Linked DNA regions of Homo sapiens: all the other regions are linked to region 1. Evidence: fine-mapped expression QTL. A gene starts in region 1. Each other region holds a variant in brackets. All regions are shown on one strand. Distances are between the middles of the regions. Region 1 holds the start of DPY19L3 (dpy-19 like C-mannosyltransferase 3). Region 2 overlaps DPY19L3 (dpy-19 like C-mannosyltransferase 3). Region 3 overlaps DPY19L3 (dpy-19 like C-mannosyltransferase 3). Region 4 has its middle 78 kb from the start of PDCD5. Region 5 has its middle 86 kb from the start of DPY19L3.

Evidence for each region. PIP is the estimated chance that this variant, and not a neighbour inherited with it, causes the effect.
Region 2: its variant is the best candidate, but not a certain one, in a credible set for the expression of DPY19L3 in whole blood (INTERVAL, PIP 0.58).
Region 3: its variant is the best candidate, but not a certain one, in a credible set for the expression of DPY19L3 in sun-exposed skin (GTEx, PIP 0.52).
Region 4: its variant is the best candidate, but not a certain one, in a credible set for the expression of DPY19L3 in whole blood (TOPMed, PIP 0.68).
Region 5: its variant is the best candidate, but not a certain one, in a credible set for the expression of DPY19L3 in whole blood (INTERVAL, PIP 0.74).

What each region holds. Positions count from the first base shown.
Region 1 is chr19:32,403,104-32,408,210 of GRCh38, reverse strand. It overlaps DPY19L3 (dpy-19 like C-mannosyltransferase 3), which reads right to left and starts at 2,441. Exons shown (of 19, transcript NM_001172774.2): 1 at 2,302-2,441. DPY19L3-DT (DPY19L3 divergent transcript) reads left to right here and starts at 2,672. Exons shown (of 3, transcript NR_046201.1): 1 at 2,672-3,220. RefSeq lists silencers at 2,060-2,809, 2,840-2,889.
Region 2 is chr19:32,461,970-32,467,076 of GRCh38, reverse strand. DPY19L3 (dpy-19 like C-mannosyltransferase 3) reads right to left here. Exons shown (of 19, transcript NM_001172774.2): 13 at 3,589-3,711; 14 at 3,097-3,208; 15 at 2,293-2,349. Among named protein-coding and RNA genes, the nearest start is that of DPY19L3, 59 kb to the right of the region's middle. The variant T/A (reference allele first, on the strand shown) is at 2,577.
Region 3 is chr19:32,479,501-32,484,607 of GRCh38, reverse strand. DPY19L3 (dpy-19 like C-mannosyltransferase 3) reads right to left here. Exons shown (of 19, transcript NM_001172774.2): 18 at 4,051-4,209; 19 at 1-2,529. The coding sequence ends at 2,368. Among named protein-coding and RNA genes, the nearest start is that of DPY19L3, 76 kb to the right of the region's middle. The variant C/T (reference allele first, on the strand shown) is at 2,737.
Region 4 is chr19:32,500,792-32,505,898 of GRCh38, reverse strand. No RefSeq gene overlaps it. Among named protein-coding and RNA genes, the nearest start is that of PDCD5, 78 kb to the left of the region's middle. The variant T/C (reference allele first, on the strand shown) is at 2,932.
Region 5 is chr19:32,488,835-32,493,941 of GRCh38, reverse strand. No RefSeq gene overlaps it. Among named protein-coding and RNA genes, the nearest start is that of DPY19L3, 86 kb to the right of the region's middle. The variant G/A (reference allele first, on the strand shown) is at 2,261.

The DNA of each region.
Region 1 (5,107 bases):
AGCAATAAACAGGCCATCAACGTCAGTGCCTTCTCCCCAACACACCCCGTGCTCATCCATGCTGAAATGCCTTTACTTATGCCATTTTCCCTCTATTAGCATGCCCTCCCTTTTTTTTTCTTCCCCCCAAGACAGGGTCTCACTGTCACTCAGGCTGGAGTGCAGCGGCACCATCACGGCTCACTGTAGCCTCTACTTCCACAGGCTCAGGTGATCCACCTCAGCCTCCCGAGTATCTGGACTACAGGCATGTGCTACTACACCTGGCTAATTATTTTTTGTAAAGATGGGGTCTCCCTATCTTGCCCAGGCTGGTACTGAACTCCTGGCCTCATGCGATCCTCCCCGCCTTGGACTCCCAAAGTGCTAGGATTACATGAATGAGCCATTGTGCCCAGCCTGCCCTCGATCTTGCCATCTAAATCGTTGCTGGCCTTCAAAGCTACACTCAAAACACAATTCAAATATTTATTCAACTCAATCATATTTATTCATGAAGCATGTGCTCTACAGCAGGCCCTGCCAGGAGTCAGGAATACAGGTAAGCAACACAAACGAGCCACTGCTTTTCTTCCAGAACATCTTGGGACATTCCAGTTCCGGCTGATCTTCTCCCTCCCTGAGCCATAGCAGTTACCACGCAATGCGTCACGTAACTACACAGTTGTATATTATTTTCTACTTCCATAGGCGGTAGTAGGTCTTCAGTACCTCCCACAGAAGTGGCCACGTGGGAGATACTCCATAGTAAATGTGTTGACAACCGGATTTTGAAGAATTAAAATATTGTTTTGTCTCAGGTACCTGAATTTTAACACCAGTGTTCTATAAAACAATTCACACTGGCAGCTTCAGGAATACGCCTCAGTGGTGATGACTGCGGGGGTGTGCCAATCAGGGCAGCTGCTATCCCAGGGAGCGTCGGTGGGAGTAATGGGTGGGGGGGAGCAGGAGCCTGGTTTGGCAGCAGCAAGTGGGAGGCGGGGGAGTGGTGGCAGTGAGTAAGCGGGTTCCAGTCCTCCAGAACATCTTGCTTCACTCCTCTGAATAATGAACAGCCTCTTACTAATTATTTCTTAAATGTGACTAGTAGCCTGACATGATTGTTTCCACAGTTTATTAATTCCTAAGGGTAACTTGCTCTACAGAACAAACCAACTAACATTATACAATTCATGTATTCATTCATACCAAAAAAAAAAAAAAAAGCAGGAAGCCAGATTTAAGTACTGTGCTTTCAAGCACTGGAAATGGAGAATCTGGAACAGAGAGGGAGAAGAGGAGTGTTTAACAAAGTCCTACAGCCACAGATGGGCTTATCCCCCATGTGACCTCATCCTAGAGTCCTCCCTAAGTGTGAGAGGACTTTTTTAAACAATTCATATATTCTAATATGTTAAGGCAGAAAACCAACACATATTTAAGTACCAATTATGTGTCAGGCACTGCAACAGTCCCATGAACTAAGAAAAAAAGTTCCTCCATCAGATCAAAAGGAATGCCATTGTAAACAACTGAAAAGGGACCAGAAGCGATTCTTTATTAATAAGGACGACTAGCGCTAGCCGGGCGAGGCGGCTCATGTAATCCCAGCGCTTTGGGAGGTTGAGGCAGGAGGATGACTTCAGACCATGAGTTTGAGACCAGCCTGGGGAACAGAGCGAGACCCTATCTATACAATAAAATAGCCAGGCTCGGTGGTGCATGCCTGTGGTCCCAGCTACTCCAGAGGCTGAGGTGGGAGAATCGCTTGAGCCCAAGAGTTCGAGGTTGCAGTGAGCCGTGATAACGCCACTGCACTCCAGCCTGGGCGAGACAGCGAGACCCCTGTCTCTAAAAAATAAAAATAAAAAAGCCTAGCGCTCTAGTGAGCATCCCCTGGACGAGGCAGGCACCGGGTCCGCTTACCTACGCGCCACGCCCCTGCACACCTGGCGTCCCCATCAGGTAGGTCTCCAAGGACAGGGGCAGCCGGGAAGTTCAGGCACGCGCCCCAGCTCTCCCAAGACCGCGAGCGGCCGCCGGGGTCGCAGCCCAGGCCCTGCCTCGCCGCACGGCCGACGAGCAGAAGCCGCTCCGCAAACTTGGTCCTTCCGGAGCCCAGCCCGGCCCGCGTCCCGGCAGACACTCCCGCGCTCCGCCCCTCCCGACGCCCCGACGCCGCGGCCGCGCCCCCCGACTGCGCCACGCGGCGGGGAGGGGCGGCCCCAGGGGCTCGGGGCTGTAGCCGAGGGTTCCGCCGGCGCCCGCCCGCCCTCTCGGTAGACCCTCGCCCGCGCGTCCCGGCGCGCCGCCACAGACCTGCGGCCTCAGCCGTCCTCACGCGCGGCTCCGGGAGGGGAAGGAGGCCGACGGGGCTAGGCGGGAACGGGGCCGCGCCACGGGCCGCAGCGCGCCGCGGGTACAAGGAGGGCAGAACCGCCGCGGAGCTTTGTGGAAATGAGGGGCTGGGGGGCGTCAACAGCCCCGGGGAGGGGGCGCGCCGGAGAGGCCGGGCGGCTGCCCCCGCGCCCATAGGCCCCGGGAGCTGTTCGTCAACACTAGGCCCCGCCTCCTCCCGCGGTTCCCCGCCTCGTCTCGTGCTGCGCTGGCCGGAAGGAAGCGGCACACTTCCGCTTGCCTGGTCCGCATTGAGTCCGGTCTGTTCCGGAGACTCTGAGCGCGGCCGCGGAGCTGCAGTGGCGGGGAGTGGGGTGCGGATCTTGTGTTTGCGCACGCAGTCGCCGGCCACCTCAGGCCGGAGCTAGAGATACGGCTCGGGATAGGAGGGCCCGGCGGCTCTGAGGCAGGTTCGCCTCGAGCCGCACGGCCCGGAGCAGCGGCTCCGCGGTGGTCCCCGGGGCTTGAGAGGGGTGCGGGCCTGGGAGCCCCTGAGGGCCTGATTTACGGAACTCCCCCTCCTTCCTCCTTTCTGCCGTTCCCTGCTCTGTGGCGGATGCGCAGGGATCAGTAGGGACGGCAGCAGTAGGGCCACTCGGGCCTGCCCCGCTTCCCGCATTGCCCGGTTTGGCGCGCCGCCTCCGGGCCTTGGCAAAGCCCCAGCGCCCGATTGTCACTGACCAGTGCTTGGAAGTCCTTTACCGACTGCCCGTCAGCGTCCCGCGGAGAGGATTTTGCGTCTCCAAAGACGCCCCTCTTCCGAAAACAGGCTCCTCTGTGTTCTCAGTCGGGTATATTTTTCTGTCTCCAAACTAGATTGGCAGCCGTTTTTTGAGAGCAGGTACTGACTGTGCTTTATTTCTAGATACTTTTCTTAGTCACACCACGGAAAACACTAGGTGGAACCTTTTTTAAAATTATTTTTTACAGGTGAGGCTCTCAGTCTGTCGCCCAGGCTGGAGTGCAGTGGTGCTATCACGGCTCACTGCAACCTCGGCCTCCTGGGCGCAAGCGATCCTCCCGCCTCAGCCTCCGGAGTAGCTGGGACCACAGGCTCGCACTACTATGCCCAGCTAATTTTTAAATTTTTCGTAGAGATGGGGGTCTTGCTTTGTCGTCCAGGCTGGAGTGCAGTGGTGTGATCGTAGCTCACTGCAACCTTAGTCCCCTGTGCCCAAGTGACCCTGCTTCCTCAGCCTCCTGAGTAGCTGAGATTCATTTTAATTTTTATAGTGATGGGGTCTCGTTGTGTTGACCAGTCTGGTCTAAAACTCCTGAGTTCAAGCAGGCCTCCTGCCTCAGCTTCTCAAAATGTTGGGATTACAGGCTTTAGCCACTGCAGCGGGCCCATCAAACGTTGTATTTGTCAGTACATAATTTACATGTTAATTGATTTTTGTTAAAGGGATGGCCATCTGGGACCTCCACCCGTGAAAAGGCGGCTCATTGGTCTGACTCCAACACTAAATTACGCCATCCAGGAAGCCTTTCCTAGTCACCTCTGTTGGAGATCGTCCTCCTTTGTGTGTCGGTTGTTAGTAAAGAGCACACGTTCTGTGGAAAGATGTTGAGGTATCTGCTGGATGGCTTTGATAGAAACAAATGTCAGCTGTTTTTTCAGATGGCATTTGTCTTGTTTCAGCCTGGTTGTTGGTAGCTTTTCTGTCGCCTGGCTTGAGGGCAAGGACTGTATGTTTATTTTTCACGTTAAGATGCCTTTATGTGCATGTGTCTGTTTCATGAATACATAGGTGAATTGAGTTCCCCTTAAATAGGATTTCCCTCTTATTTTATAGGTTTTTTTTTTTCTCTCAAGTTGTTTCACTCTGGGGGAAATGTGACCATTGTGAAATATCATCGCTTAGTTAAAAAGAAAGTAGAATTCAGCAGTAGCTGCTTTTTTTAATACTATGAAAAGACATTCCTAAGCAAGATGAAGCTTTGAGACTTTTCCTAAGTAGGACCTACTGCTGAGAGTAAGTCTTGGGGAGAATAAGCCAATTAAGAATGAGTCTTTGGTTCTGATAAAGTAACCATGGAGGTGATGGATAATGAGTGTAGGTCCTTGCTCACACTTCTGGCCATATGAGCCCGGAGCCAGGGAGGTACTATAAAAGGAATGGGCTCCTGTAATGGACTGTGACTGCAGTGGTGGTATATAGCAAGACTTCCGGTTTGCAGTAGGTTTAGAAGCCTAAATAGTCTCCCTGGTTGTCTCTGCCAGGGCCACAAATAGTTGTGCTGTGCATCTCAAAAGTGTGGTCTGGGGATCTGCAGCGTCACTGTCACCATCACTTGGGAGGTTGTTAAGAAATGCATGTTATCAGGCCCTACCCCACGCCTACTCAATTTAGAATCTGTAGGGCTAGGGGACCACTAATCTTTAAGAAGTTGATATGGTTAGGCTTTATGTCCACACCCAAATCTCATCTTGAATTGTAATTCCCATAATCCCCACCTTTCAAGGGAGAGACCAGGTGGAGGTAATTGAATTATGGAGGCAGCTTCCCCCATGCTGTTCTCATGATAGTGAGTTCTCACAAGATGTGATGGTTTTATAAGGGGATCTTGCCTCTTCGCTCAGCACTTCTTCCTGCCTCCTTGTGAGGAAAGTGCCTTGCTTCCCCCTTTGCCTTCTGCCATGTTTGTAAGTTTTCTGAGGCTTCCCCAGCCATGCTGAACTGTGAGTCAATTAAACTTCTTTCCTTTATAAATTACCCAGTCTTGG
Region 2 (5,107 bases), 59 kb before region 1:
TTTTTCCCTTTTAATATGCTTATACTAAAGAGAAATACAGCAAAATTGGTAGTATGAACAAGAAATTTTGAAACTCTAACTACAATTGCAATGTAAAACTGAAATCAGGCTTTGAAATATATGAATTCACATTACTTACAGGTAAGTCTGTAAGAGCTGGAATAGTTGGAAAACAGATTCAGTTTCAGGGTAACCCCTCATACCCATACCATCTTAATTTTCTCTGTGATTTTATGTAAGTTTTGTGGAGATGAAATATCTGAACTATTTTATACAGTGAAAGCTGAATGCATTAGGATTTCTCCTAAACTCCTGTATCAAGAGAGACTAGGCCAACAGTCTTTTGGAGGATTCCTCAGGATACTAACTCCCTTATTCAGGGAAAACCTGCAACAGGATTTCCTGGAGATGATGGCTTCTTTAGCTGTCCCAGTTCTTTTATAGCAGTGGTTTTCAAGATGAGTAAGGGGAGACATTGTGCCCCTAGCCCCAGCCCCAGGGCATTTGGCAATGTCTGGTGACATTTTTGGTTGTAGCCAGGGGAGACGTGCTTCAATGAGCGGGCAGAGGCTGAAGCTGCCGCAGAGCAGCCTACAGCACACAGGACCGCCCCCGCCCCCAGCGGCAAAGAATTCTCTGGCCCAAGTGTCAATGTGCCACTGCTGAGAAACCCTGTGACCGCTACAGCAGGGGGTTCTTAAAACTGGGGGGCTGGTTAAATGCCTATTTCTGTACTGGACTCCCAGGCTTCTGATTCGGTAGGTCTGGAGTGGGACCCAAACACATGCATGTTTACAGGATCCCAAGAGACGCTGATGCTGTTTATCTGAGGACCACGCTTCAAGAATCAATGCTCCCTAGGACAGTTTACTTCTTATACAATGTCCTTCCTCAATTTTATTACGAACAAAACACCTCAGTCCTCAAATAGCTTAAAAAAATCAGTAAAATTTCAATAGATAGCTGAGACATAAAAGAACTGAACCTACATGCACACGGGCAGTATGAAAGATGGTTATTGTTCGGTACATCTTCAGTGGTGAGAAAAACATTCATGAGCTTTATCTTTTCTGTGAGGAGGGTGCTTTAATCCACTGAATCATTGTGTAAAGGTAAACTGACAGGACTCCTCAGTAACATATACTGTTTAATCCTTAACTGTTCGTGTCTAGATGTTTTTAGTAAGTTTCAGTTATTCGCATTAGAGCAATAAAATTCCCAGAGGTGGGGAGGCATAAATCTATTTGTGTGTTTTTTAATATCTAGGAGTTAGCACAGAGTTTTGCTAATGGTAAATGTTTTGATAGACAGGCTCATAACAGAACACATTTTTTTGAAATATTTACAATATAGTATTTAGCAATATTTTCTTTAGCCTGAAACCTTTGGTTCACAAAATCCTACATGAAAATATAAGCAAATAAACCCCAAAGCTGAGCTGCTCTAGCTGATCCTCTCTGCGGGAGGTCCCATCACCCCTGCTTTTAGCCACCCTCCCAAATCAGGGGTTCTACACAGTAGAGTTTGAAATCCGTCGTTTTAACTTAAAGTAAAATTTAAAGGAAAAAAAATATAAACTTAATATGTTAGGTTCTTTAAAAAGAGAGGGCAGAAGCTCAATTGGATAAAACAGTCTGTGCTATCTGCCCTAGTGATGATTCAAGACTGCCAATGTCAAAGATGTGACAAAAAGCCACAGTCAACCTGACCAATGATCATTGTCTCTGATAAGAAATTCTCTGAATTAAAGGGCAGTTCATGCTGTTTCAGAAACTAGTCAAATGAGAATATGAAAAATCCAGATACTTCCTATTGATACTGAAGAACAGATTTTAAAAAGCCTAGCCTTAGGCTGTGTTTATTTATGTGTCTAATTCTCTTATGAAGATAAGCATCTAATAAAATATGGAGCTTAAAGTAAGATACATTTAAAAATCTCTTAGTCTATATAAATCAGGTAATGGGAAAATAATTTTCCTACTTTCATTTCAAAATAGGTCTGAAAACACCTTATTTTCAGAATTTGCATCAGCTGAATATTAAGAGTCTAAATCAAAATTAATTAGAATTATTAAATGCTATAGTAGTTTTCGCTATCATGTTTTTACTTGTTAAAACTATTTGGGAAAAAGATCCATTTTCCCATCAATGTCACCTTCAGTAAGAAGCTAAGGAGGTATTTATAACCTTCACAAACCACTCTATTTGCCAAATAATACACAAAATATATTGAATCAAAGCAATTATTCTGCTAAATACATGAATGACAAGAATGAGGAAAATCAGTCTTACCTTATAGCATAGATACAGCAGTATTAATATCGGTACTGAATATCGCATTATACATATCTATATAAGAAAGACATTATTTAGATTATAAGTATTTTGAACCTTTTCTTTTTTGAGAGACAGGGTCTTGCTATGTTTGCCTAGGCTGGCCTGGAATTCTTGGGCTCAAGTGATTTTCCTGTCTCAGCCTCCTGAGCAGCTAGGATTATAGGAGTGAGCCACTGTGCCCGGCTTTTTTAAACACTTCTGCCTTACAGTTTTGCTTTGTAAATATATGCCTTAAAAAA[T/A]TACCAGAAATATAATTTAATGGAGCACAAGTCTCCAATATGCAGAATAACTGAGTCGATACTAGGATTCTAATCATTTGTAAGATATCTGCAGCTTCTACTATATTGCCACCTAGTGAATTTATGGAGTAGAACAATTCAAAACTGCATTTATAGGCTACTGAAAAATTGTCATACATATATAAATAATTATCTTTATGAAAATACATTATAATAACAACAGTTATAATTCCGGACAAGGGGATTATTGGTAATTTTAATTCCCCTTTTGTGCTTTTTTTTGTATTTCCAAATTCTGTATAATGAACATATCTAACTTATAGTCTGAGAAAAAAGTAATTTTTTAAAATAAAATTATTTTAAAATAATTCCCTATAAAATCTTAATATATCAATTATGTATTTTCAGCTTCAATTTCAGTATCCATTTTATCTCACAGCTACTGAAAAACAAAAAAAGAAGTGGTATGAAAGAAATACTGCAAGTCATAAAAGGAGATGGAAAAAGGGATGACACTGACCCTCTTTGGGTTATAAAGATGGACTGACTTCAGAAGTAACTCCCATATTTCAGGGCTACATAGGCCGAATGATGCGAACACACACATGTGTGACGTCCAGAGGTACTTCATTCTGCAAGAACAGACACAGGCGCAAGTCAGAAGTACTAGTTGTATATAAACCTGGATTCTGAGACACCTATAAAGGCAGCTTTACAGTCTATGACGGCAAAATCTTACTTAAAACTATGCAGATGCCATTTGCCGAAGGGTTCGTTGTTTAACTCCACTGCCTTTTCAAGACTATGCTTTGAGTAAAACATAGAGGCGTGTTTGTAATTAATTGTAAAAACTGATGTTGAGTATTTTATACTGAGAGAAGATAGGATATAAGGATGATTTTATGGGAACCATGATCATTAATGAAGATGATTGTCACTTTCCAAATTATATTGCTAAGTAACATCAAGAGTGATCAAATAAAAAGTAAACAAACAGGTAAGACAAAAATACCTCATTGTACTCAATGCCAAGAATCCAAACAGAATGGTATGTATTAAGTTGTAGGCAGTTTCTGGTTTCAGGTCAACTGTGCCTTTTTCCATTTTACCCACGGATTGTTGATTTGTAGAATCACTGAGTAAAACAGCAACATACAAAATTTAAGCTGGAAACATAATTTTAGTTAGATCTTTGTAAAAGAAGAAGATACAAGAAATGTATGCCTTTATGTATTCAGAAATTGATTATTTCCATAAGATGAAATGAATTCGCATTGATCAATTTTGAATTTATGAGGCTAAAGTGTAACAATATAAATGCATTAATAATGAGAAAAACTGAAATTTCACAGCAGCTTTGAAGTAAAAATTTAAAGTGCTTCAATTCTTTAAATTAAAAGAGAATGCAAAAAAAAAAACTCAAATTTTTTGGAATTGCTGAAATTGAAAGAGATTTTTAAAAGATGTTTTACCAGTTATTATGAGTATTTTTCAAATTTTTACAAATAAGCAAAAGCAAAACACACATCCATTAACTTGGAATTCAGTTCCTTTATGACCCCTCAAAAATCACATTTTTAACCTACCAATACCTCCTGATATCCAAAAGATGACTTTTACCAAATACGGCTACATTAAAATTATTACACCCAATAAAAGTAACAATAATTCCTTAACATCATCTAATACCTAGTTCATGTTCTATTTTCCCTGTTTGCATCAATTGCTTTTTTCAGGTTTCTCTGAATCAGGATCTAAGAACTGCATGTTGCATTTCACTAATATATATCTTTAAATATCTTTTGATCTATAAAAGTATCTCCTTTTTTTAAAAAACAGGCCATTTGTTTGTGGAAGAATAGAGAACATATGTCCTGAAGCTGTTCCCGTCTCCCAGGTGTGGCTCACAGTGGTGGTTATACGTTTCATGCTTCTTGTAAACTTGTAATTAGATCTAGAGGTTTATCAGACACAAGTTCATTTTTTTGGCAAGAACACTTCACGGGGTTATGATGCACAGTAGTCCCCTCTTATCGGTGGATTCACTTTCAGTGGTTTGTTATTGAGGAAACTGCTGTCCGAAAATATTAAATTGAAAATTCCAGAAATAAACCATTCATAGTTTTGAATTACATGCTATTCTGTGTTGCATGATGAAATCTCTCCATCCCTGTCTGTCCCACCTGAGACTCAGATCATCATCCCTTGGTCCTGTGTTTCCACGCTGTATAGTCTACCCACCTACCCGAGACAGACAAGCAGATACATTCAGCTACTAAACTACTAATAAAGTAAGATACATTTAAATGTCCCTGTATTGTTTGTGTTCAAACAGCCCTTATCTTACATAACTAAGGCCCCAAAGTGCAAGAGAAGTGATGCTGGCATGTTGCTATAATTGTTGTATTTTATTATTATTGTTATTCTCTTACCATGATTAATTTATAAATTAAACTTTATCACAGGGATATATGTATAGGAAAAAAACATAGTATAGAAAGGGTGTGAAACCATCCGAGGTTTCAGGCATC
Region 3 (5,107 bases), 76 kb before region 1:
GGAGTCACACAGGCAGAGTCCGTTAAGAGCACTTCTATTGTACTTAGAGGGTCTTCTGACTGCTAACTCAGAAGCAAAATCAAGTGGGTTTTCTGTCAATAGAAAACAGAGCCATTCTTTGAGGTTATCACCACCCAGGTCTGAGTGGCGGGGAGCTGCTGCCGCGGGTCTCTTGCTTCGGCCTGGTAGAGAGGCTGTAAGCCAGAGCTAGAAGTCAGATGCTCTTCTTTGCTTTCCTTCTGTGTACTCCAATGAGAAGGTCACATTGGAGAATACTGATGAGTGCTAAAAATATTTATTAATAACATGATTCGTTGAGAGATTTGGTCATCAGGAAATAGCTACTGTACATGGTCACAGTGTCTTGGAAAGAGTGTTAAGTATGGATTCTGTCTTGCAAGATTTTTTTGGCACTTTATATTTTTCACTGAAGACTGAGCACTAAAGGTGCTGGCAACAATGACACCTAAACTATGAAAAAAAAAATCACTGTTTGCCATCATTGCGGTGATAAGCATAAAAATTTAAGTACGTGTTTCTTGTATATTAAGACTCCAAATGCCCAAATGCTTAGATGAATACATACAGGAATATTTAAAATAAATTTAAATATAGCCATAACAGAGGATTTTGAAAACAAAATCACAGAGTCTAACATATTGTACCTTACGTGTGCTTGGTTTCAATTAGAGTAAGGCACTCGCTGAAGGATGTACTGACCCATGCTGTCAGCTACAACAGGCATGCATCATTATTGGCTTAATTAAAGTTTTAGTACTGATTAAAACGTTTTATTATTGTATTATCCTAAACGGCAGTGGTCTCCAATCTTATTAAGGGATACAGAAAAGATATAATTCAGGAGTTTCAGTTGCATAATTTAATAACCCAGCTACTGTCAATTTTTTATTTAAACAAGTTTTGATAAAAGCTGAGTCTGCTTGTGTCCAACATGACAGTGTAAAAGACTTTTTGAATGCTGCTTTATAAGTAGCAACTGAATATAAAATCATTTGAAAATGTGATGCAGCCATCTTGATGCCTATGGTAATTTACTTCAATACAACTGCAAGGAGAAATGCTTAAATCATTTCCACCTGGCAAGAACAGGGGAGAAAGTTAATTCCATTAGCCATCTTGATTTAATTAAATGCATACTATGTTCTTACTGGCAACTTTTACATGTCCTCATCATTAGAAATTAATTATATAAGCGATTATCAAAAAAATTTTGAGCAGGTACATATACTCTTCTTTGTTGTTTACAAATAAGCATGACTTAGAGGCACTTGGTTACCTTTTAATAAGGAAAAGAATTACACTACCAGGGCCTTCCCAGTAAGATTGGAGACCACAAGTCAAACTTGGTATGAAAATGCTGTCTGAAAATGCTGTCTGCTAAAAATACTGTATTAGTGAACTAGTTAAGATAGAACATTTAAAAAATATTCAGACTTTGCAAGATTCTAGGCTGTAAAAAATACAAAGGCTAAAAACACAAAAAGTTTACAAAATTTTGCAAACCCAATAAATTGAAATGAGTAAGAAATAAAGCAAAACTATTACTGCAGGAGAGGTTAAAGAGTATCAGTAAGTTTTAAAATAATAACACTAAAATGTAATAAATTCTACTTGGCTACATATATTTCTGCCCCTTTAAGGACTTACGATATGGAACTTGTAACACTTTTCTGTGCCCAGCATTAAAACACATGTGTGCACATGCACACACACAGACACACACAATACATGACACATACTGCTGAAGTACTCCACATTACATTTCAGACAGAGTGTAACAAAATGTTTGATACAAAGCCTTAACATGATTTTTTTTGTTAATGTTGACAGCATGACAACTGGAAAATATTATAACATTTTAAGGTAAAACAGGACACTAAAGTGCTTTTTAAAAAGCTACCAATTGGTCTTCACCAGTGAAATCATATTAAATAAGTCGATCATCATCTCTAGTTGATTCAATCATAGCTGTCTTAAGTCACCTGAAAATTAAACGTATTTCAAATCCTGAGCAGGTGCTCATCTTCCAACATGTTATGTGCCTATCCAGGTATCCATGGAACACACATCATTCTCTCCAACAACATAATTCTAGGTCACTCTTAGAAAGTTGTTAACATTTAGGCTAAAGAACATTAATGAGAAAGATAGACACACAACGAAAAAGACTTCTGCTTGTAGAAGATGCTTTCAAAGATGGCAACACTTGTGTAAACATCTGTAGAACTTACTCATATCACAGCTTGAAGGTTTGGGCTACCTACTTACATAGGAAACGTCATCTATTGAGTTTCATCATGATGCAGTTTCTCCGTATCAAAAATAGACACTGGGCAGAAATCTGCGCTACTTGTTTCTGGACAGCTTGTAAACGTGGAAGGTTTTGTTCTGGAACACTCTGGTGAAGTAGGCCACGTAGGGAGGCAGGTTTCTTTTGATCTCTTCACAGAAGCGAGGGTGGTCTGCAGGTTTCAAATCAGGATCATTCTCTCCTGGGCCATCCATCATCTAAAACCAAAACAAACCCAAATACAATTTGGGGGGAAAATTCTATTTACAAAAGACAGTAGGAGCAGGAATGGGTATTGGGTTTAAGAATGGTATGTGAGTGAAATTAAATTATATTATTTCAATGTCCATGGGCACCTGGAGATCATCAGGGCCATCCTTTTCCCCCTTCAGAAGTGCAGACCAAGGCTGAGAAGGAGAGTGCAG[C/T]GTCACACGATGATCCCATTAACGGGAAAGCCAGAACTAGAACTCAGGTCTGCTTGCTCTCAGGAACATACTATACTGTCTCTCTCATAGAAATGAAATACAGAGAACTACAGTGATCAGAGAAAGCTCTCTAACTCATCAGAAAAAGTCACATTTAGGCCAGGCGTGGTGGCTCATGCCTGAAATCCCAGCACTTTGGGAGGCTGAGGCAGGAGGATCGCTTGGATCAGGAGTCTGAGACTCATCTGGGCAACATAGCCAGACTCCATCTTTACAAAAAATAAACAAAATTAGCTGGGTATGGTGATGTATGCCTGTGGTCCCAGCTACTTGGGAGGCTGAAGTGGGAGGATCACTTGAGCCTGGAAGGTTGAGGCTGCAGTAAGCCAAGATCACGCCACTGCATTCCAGTCTGAGTGACAGAGTGAGACCCTGTCTCTAAAAATAAATAAATAAATAAATAAATAACTGAAAAAGTCACGCTCAAATCAAAATTTAAATGGATGTCTCTGGTCTGTACCACCTCTGAACTCAAGACAGTTATGAACTATGATTCTCCTCGGGCAAAAATCTGAATCTCAAATTCTGTACAGTCAAGATTTTTTTTTTTCAAATTTAGGCTAGGTTTGTCACTTTGTCCAACTTGTTTACAAATATCTATTGGCTTTCATACCATTAATTACAGCACACATCACACCTCTAAAGGGTGAAAATCTGTTTGCTCTACTGAGACCTGGCATAGCTCCAAGAACACTTTCCTCAGAAGGGAGAAGGGAGAAGCGGCTTGCTGCTTTTCTGCTCTGGAGTGCAACTTAGCCTCTGAAAGCCGGCCTGTGGAAACACACCAGTGGACACAGGACACTCAGTAGGAGAGGGCAGGAGGGGTAGGGGGAATCCACCACCTAGACCGGAGGGCAGGAGGGCCCCACCATCCCTGCCATGCAGCAGCTAGCCAATACGAAGCGTTGGAGCAGTGGGTTTAAAGGCTGAGGTTTTGTTTATAGCAGCAAAATCCTTCACAGATACATTTTATGCAGAGCCCCATCATACAAATGAGCTGAAGGCAGAGCTGCTCTGTTTGGTGTGACACTGGGGACCCAGGGCTCCCCTCTCACCTCTCCCTTGCCCAGCCCCGGTGGCAGTCACTAAAGTGCCAAGAGAGGGCTTCTGTAGGAAGCAAGAGAAAAAGCAAATACTTGATTCGTAGCGTAATTCAACTAGACATTAAGGATAAAAAGATTCACATTCTTAGGATTCAAATCAGAGTCCCGCCCCTCCAGGAGACCCCCACACAGGGAGAGGCAGCATGCTCACGTGGCCGTTGGCAATGTCCAGCAGGTCCCGGAGTCGGCAGCCCCGGCGGTGCCTCCGCTCGTAGCAGATGCTGTCTTCCAGGATTACGTAGTCAGTGCCGAAGGACCTTAGGAGGGCATGCACTTCCTCTGGTGCCCTCTTGGCATATATCTGATAAACCTTCAAAAAGACATAAAAATGCAATGTGGCAAATGCTACTTGACTGCCAGGGAGTTAACTATGTGATGTAACCTTCCACAGGGCTGAGTCTAAGACCTAACACCCAAGGTGCTCTCTCCAGCCCAGGCCACGCTGCACTCGCTCATTTGCAGGCCTGGAGTGTGTGCGTGGAAGTTCCCAGAACGCTGTGAGTGCTCGGCCTTGGGAAGAGAGTGAGCCAGGAAGAACACATCTGGATTCAGAATGTATTACTTCAAGTCAGGACTATATTCATCAGTAGGCACCAATTCTAAGACTGCTTTCCCAAGGTAAATGACAGGGCTGAGTAAATAAGACACAGTCTCTACCTTTAAAAAGGGGACCCCCAGACTAAAATGGCCCATTAAGGGTGATGGGACAGTCTGAGGGACACACGTCCCAATAAGGCAGAGCCCCAGCTTCTGAAACTGGTAGGTGGGGAGAAGGATCCCTGTAGGGTCTCTGCTCCTAGGCTGGGGCAGCATTGGCTGCTTTACCTGCTACTCCGCATCTCAGCTAATTGAGAGACCCCACTGCTCCTCTCCCTCTCGTCCATCCTAGGGGTGAGAGCCACTTGCAGCACACCGTGGGCAACGCCACAGGAGGCCCCCTTCACGTTCATACCAGTGCCACACACCCTCAGTGGATGGATGCAAACTGAGCGTCCCAGATTCTGGGGCTGGAATGGAAACAGGCTGTGTGAGGTGTTGAATGTGGGGGTTCATGAAGAGAGGCACTGCCTCCTTTGTTGCACCCTGATTTCGAGTGCTAGATTTCTGATTTGGGCTTGAGGGTCTAACTTGATGTGTCCACATGGATGGGTGAAATGGTAGGGAGGTAGGATGCTGTTACTGTGACAACTGTGTTGTCCTACAGTCCA
Region 4 (5,107 bases), 98 kb before region 1:
CTTAAGGTTCATCCATGTTGCAGTATACTGCGGAATTTCCTTCCTTGTTGAGGCTGAGTAATATTCCATTGTATCAATATATCACATTTTGCTTTTCCATTCATTTGTTGATGGATACTATTGCTTCCACATTGTAGCTGCTATAAACAATGCTGCTGTAAACATGGGTGTATAAATATCTCTTTGCAATCTTGCTTTCTATTTGGGGGGGTATTACCCAGAAGTACCCATTCATTGCTGAAATTCATTGCTTAATTTTTTGAGGAACTGTCATACTGCTGTCTGTACTGGCTGCACCATTTTACATTCCCACCAACATTGCAAAAGAGTTCCAGTTTCTCCACAACCTCACCAACACTTGTTATTTTCTGTGTGTGTGTGTGGTTTTTTGTTTTGTTTTGTTTTGAAAGTAGCCATCCTAATGGGTGTGAGGTGGTATCTCACTGTAGTTTTGATTTGCATTTCCCTAAAGATTAGTGATGTTGAGTATCTTTTTACATGCTTGTAGGTCATTTGTAGATCTTCTTTGGAGAAATGTCTATTCAAGTCCTTTGCTCATTTTTGAATTTTTTTTCTTCATTTTAGTTCTCTATATATTCTGGATATTAATCCCTTATCAGATGTATGATTTGAAAATATTTCCTTCCATTCTGTGGGGTTGCTTTTTTACTACTGATAGTGTCTTTCAATGTACAAAATGTTAAATTTTCATGCAGTCCAATTTGTTTTTTTCTTTTGTTGCCTGTACTGTTAGTGTCATCACTTATTTTATTTATTTATTTATTTATTTAAGATGGAGTCTTGCTCTGTTGTCCAGGCTGGAGTGCAATGGTGTGATCTTGGCTCACTGCAACCTCTGCCTCCCAGGTTCAAATGATTCTCCTGCCTCAGCCTCCTGAGTAGCTGGGACTACACGCATGCACTACCATGCCCAGCTAATTTTGAATTTTTAGTAGACATGGGATTTCATCATGTTGGTCAGGCTGGTCTTAAACTCCTACCTCAGGTCATACACCCCCCTTGGCCTCCCAAAGTGCTGGGATTACAGGCGTGAGCCACTGTGCCCGGCACCTACTTATTTTAAACCTGCCCATGCCTTTTTATTCAAAGTGTGCTTCTTTAAAGTTTTGCTTTGTATCCAATGTGATGATATCTGCCTTTTAATCGTAGTTTTGATCATTGCATTTAATATAATTATTGATAAGTTTAATTCTAGATGTTCTATGTTGCTCTTTCTTTTCCATTTATCCCATATGTTGTTTCTTTTTTCTTTCTTTTTAATTGTGCAGCTGTACTTTGTTTAATATATATTTCATGCACAAATGCCGAGAGAAAAAGAGAAAGGCAGGGAGAGGGACAGAGAGAGGCTGTGAGTTTATAATAAAGATCCATCTTTAATACAAAGTACCTAGAAATGATGCTCTATCACTTCAGGTAATTATGAGACACTTACAACAAGTGGAGACATGGTGGAGAAATAGTATGTAAACGGAATATTTTCTGACAAAGTGGAAAGAATGCAACTAAAAATTGGAGCAGAATGGAGAAGGAGAAAAGTAGACTATGACCGATGATTGTTGAGTAGATAACAGATGAGCTTTCTTGTTTATGCTGAATGAAGAACATCAAAGGTATAAATAAGGTAATCAGTGAAACAAAATATGAGGCTTCCAAAATATAAAAAATAATTGTAGAATGTGAGATACTTATACATCATATAGAGAAACAGGGTAAATATAATACACGCTGTAATTAGAACAATGTGAGAGCATTGAGATCAATCATATCAATAATTGTTAATGGGCATAACATCTGTACAACAGTGTATTTATGGACCCACATGGAATGCTAATATATAATAATTTAACTATACTATATTATGTTATAGTATAGTTATATACTATATAACTATACTATACTATATAGTATAGTTATATACTATATATGTTATACTATACTATATAGTATAGTTATATACTATATATGTTATAGTATAGTATGTAAGATATATTATAATAATTTAACTATACTATATTATGTTACATATATAATATATATATTATGGTATAACATACTATACTATATACTATACTATATACTATACTATACTATATAGTATAGTTATATACTATATATGTTATAGTCTATACTATATATGTTATAGTATAGTCTATACTGTATATGTTATAGTATAGTGTATACTATATATGTTATAGTATGTAAGATATAATAATTTAACTCTACTATATTATGTTACATATATAATATATATATTATGGTATAACATACTATACTATATACTATACTATACTATATATTATAGTTATATACTATAGTATGTTATTGCATAGTATGTAAGATATAATAATTTAATTATACTATATTGTTACATATATAATATATATATTATGGTATAACATATTATGATTATAATTATAGTATAATTACATGATTATATATAACTGTATGTTACATATTAAATAAATCATGTTATATATTATTTATATAATCATGTTACATATGATTTATATGTTATATATGATTATATATTCATATGTCATATATGATATAATCATATATGTTACATATGATTATATATAACTATATAAGTTATATAATATATAATTATATTATCAAAAAGTAAAAAGTGCAAAAGAATATATTCATTTTGTGTAAAGAAAAATGGAAAATAATATAATAAAAAAATAATAAAACATGCATATCAGCGGATTTTTGCAAAAAGAAACAAAGAATGGGTAAATCAGAAATGAATAAAAAGGATTATATATGGCTGGTCATGGTGGCTCATGCCTGTAATCCCAGCACTTTGGGAGGCTGAGACGGGTGGATCACTTGAGGCCAGGAGTTCAAGATCAGCCTGGCTAACATAGTGAAACCCAGTCTCTACTAAAAATACAAAAATTAGCCATT[T/C]GTGATGGCAGGCGCCTGTAGTCCCAGCTTATTCAGGAGGCTCGGGGCAGGAGAATCGCTTGGACCCAGGGGACGGAGCTTGCAGTGAGCCAAGATTGCACCACTGCACTGCAGCCTGGGAGACAGAGCGAAAAAAAAAAAAGAAGGGATTCTGTACAAGAGGAGCAGGATGAGATAGCAGGAATGAGGAAGGAGCAACATTCTTTGAGTCTTTTTTATTGTTTTCACTCTTACATGATGTTAATGTCCTAAATAGTAAAAATAAATAAATAAAATTAGATCAGTATACATGGGGAAAAACTCTAAATGCCAACTGAAACCAATAAACTCAACTCTATTTCACAAGAGTAACAACCACGATTAAAAGGAAGGACAAATAATTAGTTCAAATAACAATTGAAGCTGGGCTTGGTGGCTCACGCCTATAATCCCAGCACTTTGGGAGGCTGAGATGGGTGGATCACTTGAGGCCAGGAGTTCGAGACCAGCCTGGCTAACATAGTGAAACCCAGTCTCTACTAAAAATAGAAAAATTAGCCAGGCGTGGTGGTGCATGCCTGTAATCCCAGCTACTTGGGAGACTGAAGCAGGAGAATCGCTTGAACCCGGGAGGAAGAGGTTGCAGTGAGCTGAGATTGCACCAATGCACTCCAGACTGGGTGACAACAGCAAAACTCCATCTCAAAAACAAAAAAAGTATCATTGAATAAGGGAACATGAATATTATGGGCCTCCAGGTGTGATACCTGAGGACACAGTATCATTTATGTAGCAGTCCAGTCGGGAATGTAGCAGATTCTATACAATAACTGGTCTGTATTCTTCAAATATACAAATTTCAGGAAAGACAAAGAAAGGTTGAGGAACTGTTCCAGATTAAGGGAGACTTAAAAGACTTGTATTTTTAGTAGAGAGAGATTTCACCATGTTGGCCAGGCTGGTCTCGAACTGCTGACCTCAACTGGTCCGCCCGCCTTGGCCTCCCAAAGTGCTGGAATTACAGGGGTGAGTGGTGATGCGTGCCTGCTATCCCAGTTACTCGGGAGGCTGAGGCAGGAGAATTGCTTGAACTCAGGAAGAGGTTGCAGTTAGCCAAGATCGTGCCACTGCACTCCAGCCTGGGCGACAGAAGACTCTGTCTCAAAAAAAAAAAAAAAAAAAAAGATTTGACAACTAAATGCAATTCCAAAATGGATTCTCTACTGGAAAAATAATTGCTATAATAAACATTTTGTGGGCAATTAACTACATTAGAATATATATTATAAATTAGATATATATCATTAGATTACATCATTAGATCTATAGATTATTACATGTTGATGTTAAAGTTCCTAAATTTGGTAAAATAATTGTGGTTATATAAAGGAATACCCTTATTCTTAGGAAATAATCACTGAAAAATTAAGGGCATAGTGGTATGATATATGCAGCATATACCTAAATAATTCAGAAGAAATAATAATAAATGTTTTCCTGTAACTATCAATCTGCTGAGAGAATGATAAAGCCAATATGGTCATATGTTAAAAATCAGTGAATCTGGGTTCTTTTTATAATTCTTATAACTTTTCTATAAATTCGACACCATTTCAACATAAAATCAGAAAAAAATATTAAAGAGTATGTAAGCTTACAGAGGGGTGAACTGAATATAAAACAGGTCAAATAGAAAACTAACAGTGAGACAGTGTATGTAGACTCCAATGTATCTGTCAGTGATTAAATTAAATTCTAAACAGACTAAAAACTTTTTTGTGTTGTTAGAGACAGGGTCTCCATCTGTCACTCAGGATAGAGTGCAGTGGTGGGATCATAGCTCATTGTAGTCTCGAACTCCTGGGTTCAAGTGATCCTCCCACCCCAGCCTCCCTAGTAGCTGGGACCATGGGCATGTGCCACCATGCCCGGCTAATTTTTAATTTTTATTTTTTTGTAGAGATGAGTCTCACTACATTGCTTGGTGGGGGGTCTCAAACTCCTGGCCTCAAGTGATCCTTTGGCCTCGGCCTCCCAAAGTGCTGGGATTATAGGCATGAGCCACTGTGCCTGGCCTAAAGACTTTTATTAAAAAGAAAAAATGGGCCAGGCACAGTGGCTCACGTCTGTAATCCCAGCACTTTGGGAGGCCGATGTGGGTGGATCGCCTGAGGTCAGAAGTTTGAGACCAGCCTGG
Region 5 (5,107 bases), 86 kb before region 1:
TTAGGTCTCAACAAATATTAATTGAATAAATCTAATTACTAGGATATCAGATTAAGCCTTACCTAAAGGCCTAAAAAAGTTAAATGTGCTAAAACATTCCCTTTATGTAAGACAACTTGGGTTAGGTTTTCCGAAACTTGTGTAAATCAAACATAAAATTCTAAGGCCCCCCAACCACCTGAATGGACCCCTCTTTCGGCCAAAGGCATTCTGAAGTTAACCTGAAAAGCTAGTTCAGGCCATGATGGGAAGGGGGAACTAGACATGCTTCATTACACCCTCCGTACTTTGGGAATTATGGATAGAACAGACTCTTTAAGTCTGATAAGAAACATTTACAATCTACTTTCTCTGAAGCCTGCTACCTAGAGGCTTCATCTGCATGATAAAACCTTGGACTCCACAGTCCCTTACTGTAACTCAGACACTCCTTTCTATTGACAGTAACTCTTTCTGTCAATCAGAAAAATCTCTAAATCTACCTATGACCTGGGAGCCCCCCACTTTGAGTTGTCCCACCTTTCTGGACTCAACCAGTGTACATCTTACATGTACTGACTGATGTCTCGTGTCTCCATAAAGTGTATAAAGCTAAGCTGCACCCCGACCACCTTGGGTACATGTCATCAGGACCTTCTGAGGCTGTGTGTCATGGTGTGTCCTTAACATTGGCAAAATAAACTTTCTAAATGAAGACTTATCTCAGATACTTTTGGTTTACACTTGCAATTTGAAATTTCCTAAATGATACACCCTTGGCTTTCCCTTAGAGGTCATCATATCCATTTCAATTCAGTGCAATAATAGGATATTTTGAATTCATGTTTATATCATAAACCTATCCTCACGCCCTTTTCTCACCTCTTCCTCTGGCATACAGTAGGTACTCAGGAAGTTCTCACTGAAGAAACCATTGAGTTACATGATGGCCTAGGAAAGGTTGTGTTCATAATTTTCATAATCTACCAGGCTCTTACAGATATTCAAAGATTCTGAAACATTTTCTATTAAACAAAAAGGCTGCCCACAAAGACAGCACAGTAACAGTACAGCAGGTCCCCTAACAATGGTCTTGTCTATTTGTGCTAAACTATTAATTATCAGTAACCCCCAAAGCACCTTCCTACAGAGTGAATCTAGTGTGATATCAGGTGTTGTAAAAAATAAAAAATAATAATTAACAGCAGTGAGTGCCAAATGAGCAAAACTTATGTAAATAATCTTAATAGAAATGAGAGATAATTGTTCACAGGTGTCATTTCCTGAGAGAAAACATATACCTTTTCTTGCAAGAGAAAATGCTAATAGTTTCATTAAATTTATGAGCCTTAATTAGCTCACTGCAGTTCTAATTACCGGGCTAGTCCTGAAATCATGTTCCTTCACTCCTTTCCCTTTCTTAAGCAGATTCACGCACAATCAGCCCCTTCTACTTCTTTATGAATATGTGCACCTTGGCAGGGCTTTGGCATTTATCTTCAACAATGATAATGTCTCCTCTAAGAACATCCAATCAATCAGTCTCTCTTGGTCTTTGTCCATGGCTCTATTTTTCTGTCTCTCTTCCTCACCCGCACAGAGACACAAACACAAATCCATTTCCTTGTGTTGCAAATACACACCTCAGGAATTACTAAGAAACTAATTTATCTATAAAACTGTTCTCTTAATCTCCTCCTCAGTCCTTGAAGTTTTCTTTTTTTTTTTCTTTTTGCTTTTAAAGATATTTTCTACAGCAAGAATAGTTAACATAAAATTACTAAGGGCTCTTTAGTATCTGTCAGACTCACCTGTAACTTTGCTCTTCATGCTTTTCTCTTTCACATTCTAATTTTGAAGACGACTGTGATAATAATCCTGCAGCTTTCATCTAATGTACTTACCATGTGCTAGATATTGGGCCTAGTGCTTGAAATGTTATCTCATTTAATCCACCCCACAAACCAATAGGTATATTATGATTACACCTCCATTTACAAAAGAAGACATGAAGCTAAGAATATGAGTAGCATGCCCAAAGTCATACAGGCCCATTCTATTTCCTCTCCTTGTGGGACTCCAGTACCACTTATAGAATGGCATAAAATATACCAAAATATACTCCATGCTCTCCTTTTTCTTTTTAAATAAAAACAGGGCTGGGTGCGGTGGCTCACGCCTGTAATCCCAGCACTTTGGGAGGCCAAGGCGGGCAGATCATGAAGTCAAGAGATCGAGACCATCCTGGCCAATATGGTGAAACCCTGTCTCTACTAAAAAT[G/A]CAAAAATTAGCTGGGCATGGTGGGCAGCTGTAGTCTCAGCTACTCGGGAGGCTGAGGCAGGAGAATCACTTGAACCCAGGAGGCGGAGGTTGCAGTGAGCCAAGATCTTGCCACTGCACTCCAGCCTGGCAACAGAGCGAGACTCCATCTCAAAACAACATAACACGACACAAAACAAAACAAAAAAAACGGGTCTCACTATGTTGCCCAGGCTGGTCTCAAACTCCTGAGGCCCAACCGATCCTGCCTTGGCCTCTCAAAGTGCTGGGATTATAGGTGTGAGTCACCACACACAGCCTTTCCTTTGTTTTTCAACTTCTCCCCAGCCCACAATATTTTAGTCTGGATATTTTCTTCTAACCTATTGTCCAGTTGATCAACTCTCTTCAGCTGTGTCTAACCCAACAGTGAACACTTAATTCATTGCATTTTTCAGTTCTAGCATTTCCATTTTGCTTTTATAAAGTTTTCAGTTATTCACCTAAATTCTCCTTCTTGTCATTTAAAGTCTTAAATATGATAAACATAGTTATTTTAAAGTCTATGCTTCAGGCTGCAATATTTGATTTGCCTGTGGCACTGTTTCTACTTCAATTCTGTTTCAGTCATGTTTTTTGTTTTTGTTTTTTTGAGACAGGCTCTCACTCTTGTCACCAGGCTGGAGTATAGTGACATGATCATGGCTCACTGCAGCCTTGATATCCCAGGCTCAGGTGATTCTCACACCTCAGCCTCCTGAGTAGCTGGGATTACAGGCGCATGCCACCACACGTAAGTTTTTGTATTTTTTTTTTTTTTGAGACGGAGTCTCGCTCTGTCGCCCAGGCTGGAGTGCAGTGGCGGGATCTCGGCTCACTGCAAGCTCCGCCTCCCGGGTTCACGCCATTCTCCTGCCTCAGCCTCCCAAGTAGCTGGGACTACAGGCGCCCGCCACTACGCCCGGCTAATTTTTTGTATTTTTAGTAGAGACGGGGTTTCACTGTTTTAGCCGGGATGGTCTCGATCTCCTGACCTCGTGATCCGCCCGCCTTGGCCTCCCAAAGTGCTGGGATTACAGGCGTGAGCCACCGCGCCCGGCCAGTTTTTGTATTTTTTGTAGACACAGAGTTTCGCCTTGTTGTCCAGGCTGCTGTCAAATTCCTGGGCTCAAGTGATCCTCCCTTCTCGACCTCCCAAAGTGCTGGGATGACAGGTGTGAGCCACCACACTTGGTCTCAGTTTTAAAAAATTATTCCTGATTATTTTATTGAGTGCTACATTGTGTATATAAAAAGTGTAAAGACAATTTGAAGCCATGAATAAGGCTATCATCCTTCATAGCAGATTTACATTTGTTTCTGGCAGGCAATTGGGATAACAGCCTCTACTCCCAGGATAAGGTATAGTCTCTCCAGAGTCTCAGCTGAATGCCTGGGAGATTGACCGTGGTCTCTCAGCCCCAGCTGGACCCAAATTCCAGTGTCTCCTCGGGATTGTGTAACCTCTGAAATTTCTGTTCAGCTCTGCCACTGACCAGATGTTCTCTGCTAAGCCTCTGCAGGCTAGGAACTGACCAAGGACCCAATGGGAAATTCTTAGGTTTTCTTTATTCCAACTCCCTCCTCTCTGGTGCTCTGCCCCTCCAACCCCTGCCAAACCCCAGCCACCTCAGCAGCTATCAACTCCAATCTGCTTCCTCCAGAAAGCCTGACATACTCTGCTTGGGCTCCATTTTCCTGTGCCACAGTTTGGAAAATCCTCTAAGGGAGAAAGCCTGGGTAACCCTGGGATTCACCTTGTGTTTCTCCTTTCTGTCAAAGTTTACAAAAGCCCTATGTTAACCATTGCCACTCAGTTATCGCCAGGCCCTATTCTTTTATTTTTACATTTTTTTTAAGAGACAAGGTCTTGCTCTGTTGCCCAGGCTGGAGTGCAGTGATGCAATCATAGCTCACTGCTGCCTCAAACGCCTAGGCTCAAGGGATCCTCCCACCTCAGCCTCCTGAGTAACTGGGACTACAGGTGTGTGCCATCACTCATGGCTAATTTGAAAAAAATATATTTTGTAGAGATGGGGTCTTGTTATGTTGCCCAGGCTAATCTTGAACTCCTGACCTCAAGTGATCATTCTGCCTTGGCCTCCCAAAGCACTGGGATTACAGGCGTGAGATACCATGCCTGGCCCAGACCCTGTTCTTTTAAACTGTCTGTGGTAGGAAGAATTCTAAGATGGCCCCCAAGATTCCCACTGCCTGAACAACATGCCCTGCAGAGCCCTTCCCCTTAAGTGTGGATGAGCCTATGAATATAAATGCCACTCCTATTTAGGTAATTAGGCGAGGCTATATAGCAAAAGCGAAAGGATTCTGCAGATGTAATTCAGGTCACAAACAAGCTGATTTTGAGCTAACAAAAATGGAGATTATATTGGGTGGGTCTGACTTAATCCAGGTGAAAAACTTTTTGTTTTTTTTTTTTTTGAGACGGAGTCTCGCTCTGTTGCCCAGGTTGGAGTGCAGTGGTGCGATCTCAGCTCACTACAAGCTCCACCTCCCGGGTTCATGCCATTGTCCTGCCTCAGCTTCCTGAGTAGCTGGGACTACAGGCACCCACCACCATGCCTGGCTAATTTTTTGTATTTTTAGTAGAGATGGGGTTTCGCCATGTTAGCCAGGATGGTCTCAATCTCCTGACCTTGTGATCCATCCGCCTCGGCCTCCCAAAGTGCTGGATTACAGGCGTGAGCCATCACGCCCGGCCGAAAAACTCTTAAAACAGTAACTGGAGAAATGCTTTCTGATGGCCTTGAAGAGGCTAACGGCCATGCTGTGAATCGCCTAGAGAGGGGTGGCCTCTAGGAGCTAATG